2 separate regions of the Homo sapiens genome follow, and region 1 is linked to region 2. The links come from fine-mapping of genetic effects on gene expression. A gene starts in region 2. The other region holds a variant in brackets. All regions are shown on one strand. Distances are from middle to middle. Region 1 has its middle 23 kb from the start of ZNF117. Region 2 holds the start of ZNF117 (zinc finger protein 117).

The links. PIP is the estimated chance that this variant, and not a neighbour inherited with it, causes the effect. A credible set is the group of variants that fine-mapping cannot tell apart.
Region 1: its variant is the best candidate, but not a certain one, in a credible set for the expression of ZNF117 in stomach (GTEx, PIP 0.51).

What each region holds. Positions count from the first base shown.
Region 1 is chr7:64,965,568-64,969,961 of GRCh38, reverse strand. No RefSeq gene overlaps it. Among named protein-coding and RNA genes, the nearest start is that of ZNF117, 23 kb to the left of the region's middle. RefSeq lists a silencer at 464-664 and enhancers at 762-1,505, 1,506-2,249. The variant G/A (reference allele first, on the strand shown) is at 2,445.
Region 2 is chr7:64,988,864-64,993,257 of GRCh38, reverse strand. It overlaps ZNF117 (zinc finger protein 117), which reads left to right and starts at 2,222. Exons shown (of 4, transcript NM_015852.5): 1 at 2,222-3,311. The region is part of intron 1 of ERV3-1-ZNF117 (ERV3-1-ZNF117 readthrough); the gene reads left to right. ERV3-1 (endogenous retrovirus group 3 member 1, envelope) reads left to right here. Exons shown (of 2, transcript NM_001007253.4): 2 at 1-2,902. The coding sequence starts at 232. The coding sequence ends at 2,046.

The DNA.
Region 1 (4,394 bases), 23 kb after region 2:
ATTTAGTTAAGACAACAAAAAAATCTATAGTTCAGTATGCCTGATGAACATTGAAACAAAAATCTTTCATGAAATACTAGTAAGCTGAGTTCATAAACAAATCAAAAAGTTATTTTGCCACAATCATGTGAGTTTCATTTCATGAATGCAAGGATGTTTTATCATATGCAAGTCAATAAGTGTGACTCACCATATAAAGATAATTAAAATGATTAAACCATATAATTATTACACTAGATGTGGAAAAATCATTAAAGGAAATTTAATGTTCATAAAAGTATTCTCAACATGCGACATACAAGGCATTGAAAAAAATACCTCACAATAATAAGAGCCATCCTCAGGCAACATTATCCTCAGGCAACATTATACTGAACAGGAAAAAGCTTGATGCATTCTTACAAATAAAAATAAGATCAATGTCCACTCTAAATATTCCTATTCAACATAGTTCTGGAAGTCCTAGCCAGAGCAATCCAACAAGATGAAAAAAGAAAAAGGCATCCAAATAAGAAAAGAGGAAGTCAAATTATCTTCACTGATGATATAATTCTCTACTTGAAAAACGTTAAAGATTTCTCCCAAAGACTCCCAAGCCTAAAAAATGATTCAGCAAAGTGTCAGGATACCAAATCAATGTACACAAATGACTGGCATTTCTATACACCTTGAATAACATTCAACACTTGAATAACATTTAAGCAGAGAACAAAATCAAGAACAGAGCTCTATTTAAAATAGCCACAAACAAAAAATAATATACCTAGGAATGGATTGACTCAAGGAGGTAAAATATCTTTAGAAGGAGAACTACAGTCTACTTTTTAAAAACTGTAATTCTCTCTCCCTCTCCCTCTCCCCACGGTCTCCCTCTCCCCACGGCCTCCCTCTCCCTCTCTTTCCACGGTCTCCCTCTGATGCCGAGCCAAAGCTGGACTGTACTGCTGCCATCTCGGCTCACTGCAACCTCCCTGCCTGACTCTCCTGCCTCAGCCTGCCGAGTGCCTGCGATTGCAGGCGCGCACTGCCACACCTGACTGGTTTTCGTATTTTTTTGGTGGAGACAGGGTTTCGCTGTGTTGGCCGGGCTGGTCTCCAGCTCCAAACCGCGAGTGATCCGCCAGCCTCGGCCTCCCAAGGTGCCAGGATGGCAGACGGAGTCGCGTTCACTCAGTGCTCAATGGTGACCAGGCTGGAGTGCAGTGGCGTGATCTCGGCTCGCTACAACCTCCACCTCCCAGCTGCCTGCCTTGGCCCCCCAAAGTGCCAAGATTGCAGCCTCTGCCCGGCCGCCACCCCGTCTGGGAAGTGAGGAGCGTCTCTGCCTGGCCGCCCATCGTCTGGGATGTGAGGAGCCTCTCTGCCTGGCTGCCCAGTCTGGAAAGTGAGGAGCGTCTCTGCCCGGCCGCCATCCCATCTAGGAAGTGAGGAGCGTCTCTGCCAGGCCGCCCATCGTCTGAGATGTGGGGAGCGCCTCTGCCCTGCTGCCCCGTGTGGGATGTGAGGAGCGTCTCTGCCCGGCCGCCCCATCTGAGAAGTGAGGAGACCCTCTGCCTGGCAACCGCCCCGTCTGAGAAGTGAGGAGCCCCTCCGCCCGGCAGCCACTCCGTCTGGGAAGTGAGGAGCGTCTCCGCCCGGCAGCCACCCCGTCTGGGAGGGAGGTGGGGGTCAGCCCCCCGCCCGGCCAGCCGTCCCATCCGGGAGGGAGGTGGGGGGGGTCATCCCCCCGCCCGGCCAGCCGCCCGTCCGGGAGGGAGGTGGGGGGGTCAGCCCCCCGCCTGGCCAGCCGCCCCGTCCAGGAGGTGAGGTGGGGGGGTCAGCCCCCGCCCGGCCAGCCGCCCCGTCCGGGAGGTGAGGGGCGCCTCTGCCCGGATGCCCCTACTGGGAAGTGAGGAGCCCCTCTGCCCGGCCAGCCACCCCGTCCGGGAGGGAGGTGGGGAGGTCAGCCCCCCGCCCGGCCAGCCGCCCCGTCCGGGAGGGAGGTGGGGGGGTCAGCCCCCCGCCCAGCCAGACGCCCCGTCCGGGAGGTGAGGGGCGCCTCTGCCCAGCCGCCCCTACTGGGAAGAGAGGAGCCCCTCTGCCCAGCCAGCCGCCCCGTCCGGGAAGGAGGTGGGGGGGTCAGCCCCCCGCCCGGCCAGCCGCCCTGTCCGGGAGGGAGGTGGGGGGGTCAGCCCCCCGCCCAGCCAGACGCCCCGTCCGGGAGGTGAGGGGCGCCTCTGCCCAGCCGCCCCTACTGGGAAGAGAGGAGCCCCTCTGCCCGGCCAGCCGCCCCGTCCGGGAAGGAGGTGGGGGGGGGGTCAGCCCCCACCCGGCCAGCCGCCCCATCCAGGAGGGAGGCGGGGAGGTCAGCCCCCAGCCCGGTCAGCCGCCCCGTCCGGGAGGGAGGCAGGGGGGTCAGCCCCCCGCCCGGCCAGGCGCCCCGTCCCGTCCGGGAGGTGAGGGGC[G/A]CCTCTGCCCGGCCGCCCCTACTGGGAAGTGAGGAGCCCCTCTGCCTGGCCACCACCCTGTCTGGGAGGTGTACTCAACAGCTCATTGAGAACGGGCCATGATGACAATGGTGGTTTTGTGGAATAGAAAGGGGGGAAAGGTGGGGAAAAGATTGAGAAATCGGATGGTTGCCGTGTCTGTGTAGAAAGAGGTAGACATGGGAGACTTTTCATTTTGTTCTGTACTAAGAAAAATTCTTCTGCCTTGGGATCCTGTTGATCTGTGACCTTACCCCCAACCCTGTGCTCTCTGAAACATGTGCTGTGTCCACTCAGGGTTGAATGGATTAAGGGTGGTGCAAGATGTGCTTTGTTAAACAGATGTTTGAAGGCAGCATGCTCGTTAAGAGTCATCACCACTCCCTAATCTCAAGTACCCAGGGACACAAACACTGCGGAAGGCCGCAGGGTCCTCTGCCTAGGAAAACCAGAGACCTTTGTTCACTTATCTGCTGACCTTCCCTCCACTATTGTCCTATGACCCTGCCAAATCCCCCTCTGCGAGAAACACCCAAGAATGATCAATAAAAAAAAAAAAAAAAAAAAAAGAACTACAAAACACTGCTGAAAGATATCAGGGACAACACATACAAATGGAAAACATTCCATGCTCATAGATTTGAAGAATCAATATAATTAAAATGTCCATGATGCCTAAAGCAACTTGTAAATTAAATGCTCTTTCTATCAAACTATCAATGCAATTTTTTGTAGAATTAAAAACAATGGTTTTAAATTCATATTGAATAAAAGAGCCCAAATAGCCAAGGCATCTTTAAACAAAATGAATAAACCTGGAAGCCTCACTTTACCTGACTTCAAACTGTACTACAAGTGGCAGTAACCAATATAGCATGGTTCTCGGACAAAAATAAACATGTAGACCAATGGAACAGAAGAGAGAGACTTGAAATAAAGCTACACTCCTACAACCAACTTATTTTTGACAAAGTCAACAGAAATAAAGGGGAAATAACTTTCCATCTGATAAATGGTACTGATAAATAATGGACTATATGGTTAGTCACATGCAGAAGAAAAAAACAACTCTTACCTCTCAGCATATAAAAAATGTAACTCAAGATAGATTAAAAACTGAACATGAAGTTTCAAGCTATGAAAATCCTATATGAACACCTAGAAAGTACTCTTGTGGACACTGGCCTCTGAAAACAATTTGAGACTAACACCTTAAAAGTAAATGCAACAAAAATATAAATTGACACCTAATTAAACTAGATCTCCTGCACAGCAAAAGAAATTTGACAAAGTAAATGGACAAGCTACAGCATGGAGAAAAATATTTGCAAACTGCATACAACAAAAAAATTAATATACAAAATCTATAAGAAATGTAATAGGAAAAAAGCACAGAATATATCAATAGATACTTCTCAAAGGAAGATATAAAAGCTGTCAAGAAACATGCAAAAAGTTGCCCAACATCTCAAGCCATTAAAGAGATTAAATCAAAATGACAATGTGATACCATCTCACACCAGTTAAAATGGCTGTTATTAAAAAGTAAAAAAAAAAATAGCATGTTGTGGAGAATAGGGAATGTTTACACAGTCTTTGTGAGAATGCAAATTAATTCAGCCTTTTGTTGATTAATTCAGCCTCTTGTTGGAGCCTCTACTTCAACAAAAGATGCCATGAATTTCAAGTTATTATGCTGACACATATATTGTCTCTAGAAGGGTTCTGGTTTTTTTGCAATCAAGGTGTAGCATTTCTGGCTTCCCTTGTGCTGCTTTGTTTGTGTGAAATAGGAAGGTAGGAAGTAAAACCAAGTAAACCATGACATTTCTATTTTCTACAGCCACAGCATCTGAATTCTAGTGTTATGTCAACTAGAAATAATGTCAGTATTTCAAAACTGACAAAAAGAAATTGATACTTTATCTTTTT
Region 2 (4,394 bases):
CCGGAAGCTGACCAGTCCACACACGGCTGAAGCTTGAGGAGACAACAGCCCTGCTCTAGTCACCCCAGAAGCTGACTAGTCTATGCACGGCCGAAGCTTGAGTCATCATCAGGGAAGTAAATGTGGTTAGAAATCTGAAGTCCAGTAATTTTCCTTGTCATATTAATTACTTTGCTATTAAGCTGTCACTTTGCTTAGCCTTCTCCCCCCAGGAAAAAGCCTTTTCTGTCCATGCTGGGTATGAACATGCTACTCATCACTTTGTTCTTGCTACTCCCCTTATCCATGTTAAAAGGAGAACCCTGGGAGGGATGCCTCCACTGCACCCACACTACGTGGTCGGGGAACATCATGACTAAAACCCTGTTGTATCACACTTATTATGAGTGTGCTGGGACCTGCCTAGGAACTTGTACTCACAACCAGACAACCTACTCAGTCTGTGACCCAGGAAGGGGCCAGCCTTATGTGTGTTATGACCCTAAGTCTTCACCTGGGACCTGGTTTGAAATTCATGTCGGGTCAAAGGAAGGGGATCTTCTAAACCAAACCAAGGTATTTCCCTCTGGCAAGGATGTCGTATCCTTATACTTTGATGTTTGCCAGATAGTATCCATGGGCTCACTCTTTCCCGTAATCTTCAGTTCCATGGAGTACTATAGTAGCTGCCATAAAAATAGGTATGCACACCCTGCTTGTTCCACCGATTCCCCAGTAACAACTTGCTGGGACTGCACAACGTGGTCCACTAACCAACAATCACTAGGGCCAATTATGCTTACCAAAATACCATTAGAACCAGATTGTAAAACAAGCACTTGCAATTCTGTAAATCTTACCATCTTAGAGCCAGATCAGCCCATATGGACAACAGGTTTAAAAGCACCGCTAGGGGCACGAGTCAGCGGTGAAGAAATTGGCCCAGGAGCCTATGTCTATCTATATATCATAAAGAAAACTCGGACCCGCTCAACCCAACAGTTCCGAGTTTTTGAGTCATTCTATGAGCATGTTAACCAGAAATTGCCTGAGCCCCCTCCCTTGGCCAGTAATTTATTCGCCCAACTGGCTGAAAACATAGCCAGCAGCCTGCACGTTGCTTCATGTTATGTCTGTGGGGGAATGAACATGGGAGACCAATGGCCATGGGAAGCAAGGGAACTAATGCCCCAAGATAATTTCACACTAACCGCCTCTTCCCTCGAACCTGCACCATCAAGTCAGAGCATCTGGTTCTTAAAAACCTCCATTATTGGAAAATTCTGTATTGCTCGCTGGGGAAAGGCCTTTACAGACCCAGTAGGAGAGTTAACTTGCCTAGGACAACAATATTACAACGAGACACTAGGAAAGACTTTATGGAGGGGCAAAAGCAATAATTCTGAATCACCACACCCAAGCCCATTCTCTCGTTTCCCATCTTTAAACCATTCTTGGTACCAACTTGAAGCTCCAAATACCTGGCAGGCACCCTCTGGCCTCTACTGGATCTGTGGGCCACAAGCATATCGACAACTGCCAGCTAAATGGTCAGGGGCCTGTGTACTGGGGACAATTAGGCCGTCCTTCTTCCTAATGCCCCTAAAACAGGGAGAAGCCTTAGGATACCCCATCTATGATGAAACTAAAAGGAAAAGCAAAAGAGGCATAACTATAGGAGATTGGAAGGACAATGAATGGCCTCCTGAAAGAATAATTCAATATTATGGCCCAGCCACCTGGGCAGAAGATGGAATGTGGGGATACCGCACCCCAGTTTACATGCTTAACCGCATTATAAGATTGCAGGCAGTACTAGAAATCATTACCAATGAAACTGCAGGGGCCTTGAATCTGCTTGCCCAGCAAGCCACAAAAATGAGAAATGTCATTTATCAAAATAGACTGGCCTTAGACTACCTCCTAGCCCAGGAAGAGGGAGTATGCGGAAAGTTCAACCTTACTAACTGCTGCCTGGAACTTGATGACGAAGGAAAGGTCATCAAAGAAATAACTGCTAAAATCCAAAAGTTAGCTCACATCCCAGTTCAGACTTGGAAAGGATAGTCTCCAGATTCCCTTTTCAGAGGTTGGTTCTCATCCCTTGGAGGATTTAAAACCTTAGTACAAATAGTCCTAGCCATATTGGGAGTTTGCCTTATACTCCCTTGTCTCTTACCCCTCATTGTCAAAAATATCCAAACAGCCATAGAGGCTCTTGTGGACAGACGGACTACCACACGACTAATGGCCCTAACTAAGTATTAACCCCTGCCAAGAAAAGAGCTACTTCCTCTTGAAGTAAATGAAGATAGTGATGCTTTCTCTTAAACTTTACTTATAAAAAGCATCAAAGGGGGGAATGAAGCAGGAAATATAAAAGGAAAAACAAGTAAAGGGAAAACAAGTCCTTTCCTGACCAGTCTGACTCACTCCAAAGTCCTGCTGGAGCTATGATAATTATCTGCAAGGCCAGGCAGGGGCTCCGAAGGAGTGGGCTCCAGGAGCAGGGATGAGAAAAACAAGTTCTCCTTATCAGTTTCCCTGTTTGAAATTCTCTCCCCATAACATTATTCTTTGTTCTGCTCTCACAACTATTTTTGTAACTATTTCTGCAAGTCTGTAAAGATTTTGTAAGTTCTTGTTTTTCTTTCTGTAGCATGGCAAGGTCACAAGACATGTTTAAGTAAGGTAGGCTCATGTTGCAAATCCTGTTGTAAAACCTGTCACGGTATGATTAACTGCCTTTGTTCTGCTTCTGTAAGACTGCTTTCTCACCTCGCAGGTTTTGCGCCAAAAACCCGACTTGCCCCTGCCTGATGCATGTATAAAAGTCAAGCCCTGTCTTTGTTCAGGGCTCAGCCTTTGGATGTTAATCCGCTGGGCCAGTGGCCACCTAAATAAAACCTTCCTGTTGCACCCAGTGATCTCTCCGGCCTCCTGATTCCCACAACATATAAGCATTCCTTTTTCTCTGCAACCTAGCCCGCATCTGTCATTGACTTTTTAACAATAGGCATTCTGACTGGATGAGATGGTATCTCACTGTGGTTTTTCTCTGCATTTTTCTAATAATTAACAACGTGAATTTTGTTTTCATATGCTTGTCAGCCACATGTATGTCTTCTTTTGAAAAGTATCTGTTCATGTTTTTGCTTACTTTTTAATTAGGTTTTTGGTTTTCTTTTTGTTGTTGTTGTTGTTTTCTGAGATGGAGTCTTGCTGTGTCACCAGGATGGAGTGCAGTGGCATGATCTCGACTCACTGCAACCTCCACCTCCCAGGTTCAGATGATTCTTCTGCTTCAGTCTCCTGAGTAGCTGGGATCACAGGTGCGTGACACAAAACCCAGCTAATTTTTGTATTTTTATTAGAGATGGGGTTTCACCATGTTGGCCAGGATGGTCTGGATCTCTTGACCTCATGATCCATCTGCCTCAGCTTCCCAAAGTGCTGGGATTACAAGCATGAGCCACAGATCCTGGCTTATTCTTCTTCTTCTTTTTTTTTAAAATAAATTTGTTTAAGTTTCTTATGGATGCTAGATTTTAGACCTTTGTCAGAAGCATAGTTTGCAAATATTTTCTTCTAGTCTGTAGGTTGTCTGTTTATTCAGTTGATTGTTTCCATTGCTGCAAAATAGCTCTTTAGTTTAATTAGGTCCCATTTGTCAATTTTTGCTTCTGTTGCAATTGCTTTTGGTATCTTCATCATAAAATCTTTGCCAGTTTTTATGTCTTAGAATTTTCTAGGTTATTTTCTAGATTATTTTCAGGTTTTATATATATATATATATATATATATATATATATATATATATATATATATATATATAATTTTAAGTTCTACATTTAAGTCTTTAATTCATCTTGAATTGATTTTTATATATCATGTAAGAAAGGCATCCAGTTTCAATCTTCTGCATAGTGCTAGCTAGTTATTCCAACCTCATTTATTAAATAGGGAATTCTTCCTGCATTGCTCTTGTAAGCTTTGTTGAAGATCAGATGGTTGCAGGTGTGTGGCATTGTGGCATTATTTATTGGCTATCTATTCTGTTTCTTGTTCTATGAGTCGTTTATATATATGTGTGTGTGTGTGTATATGTGTATATATGTGTGTGTGTGTGTGTATACATTGCCTTGGGTATTCGGGCTCTTTGTTAGTTCTATATGAATTTTAAAATAGTTGTTTTTAGTTCTGTTAAGAATGTTTTTGGTAGTTTGATAGGAATTACATTAGATCTGTAAATTTCTTTTGGCAGTATGGCCATTTTAATGATATTGATCTTTTTTATCCATGAGCATAAAATAAATCTCCATTTATTTGTGTCATATATGATTTATTTAAGCAGTGTTTTGTAATTCTTGTTGTAGAGGTCTTTCACCTCCCTGGTTAGCTGTATCTCTAGATGT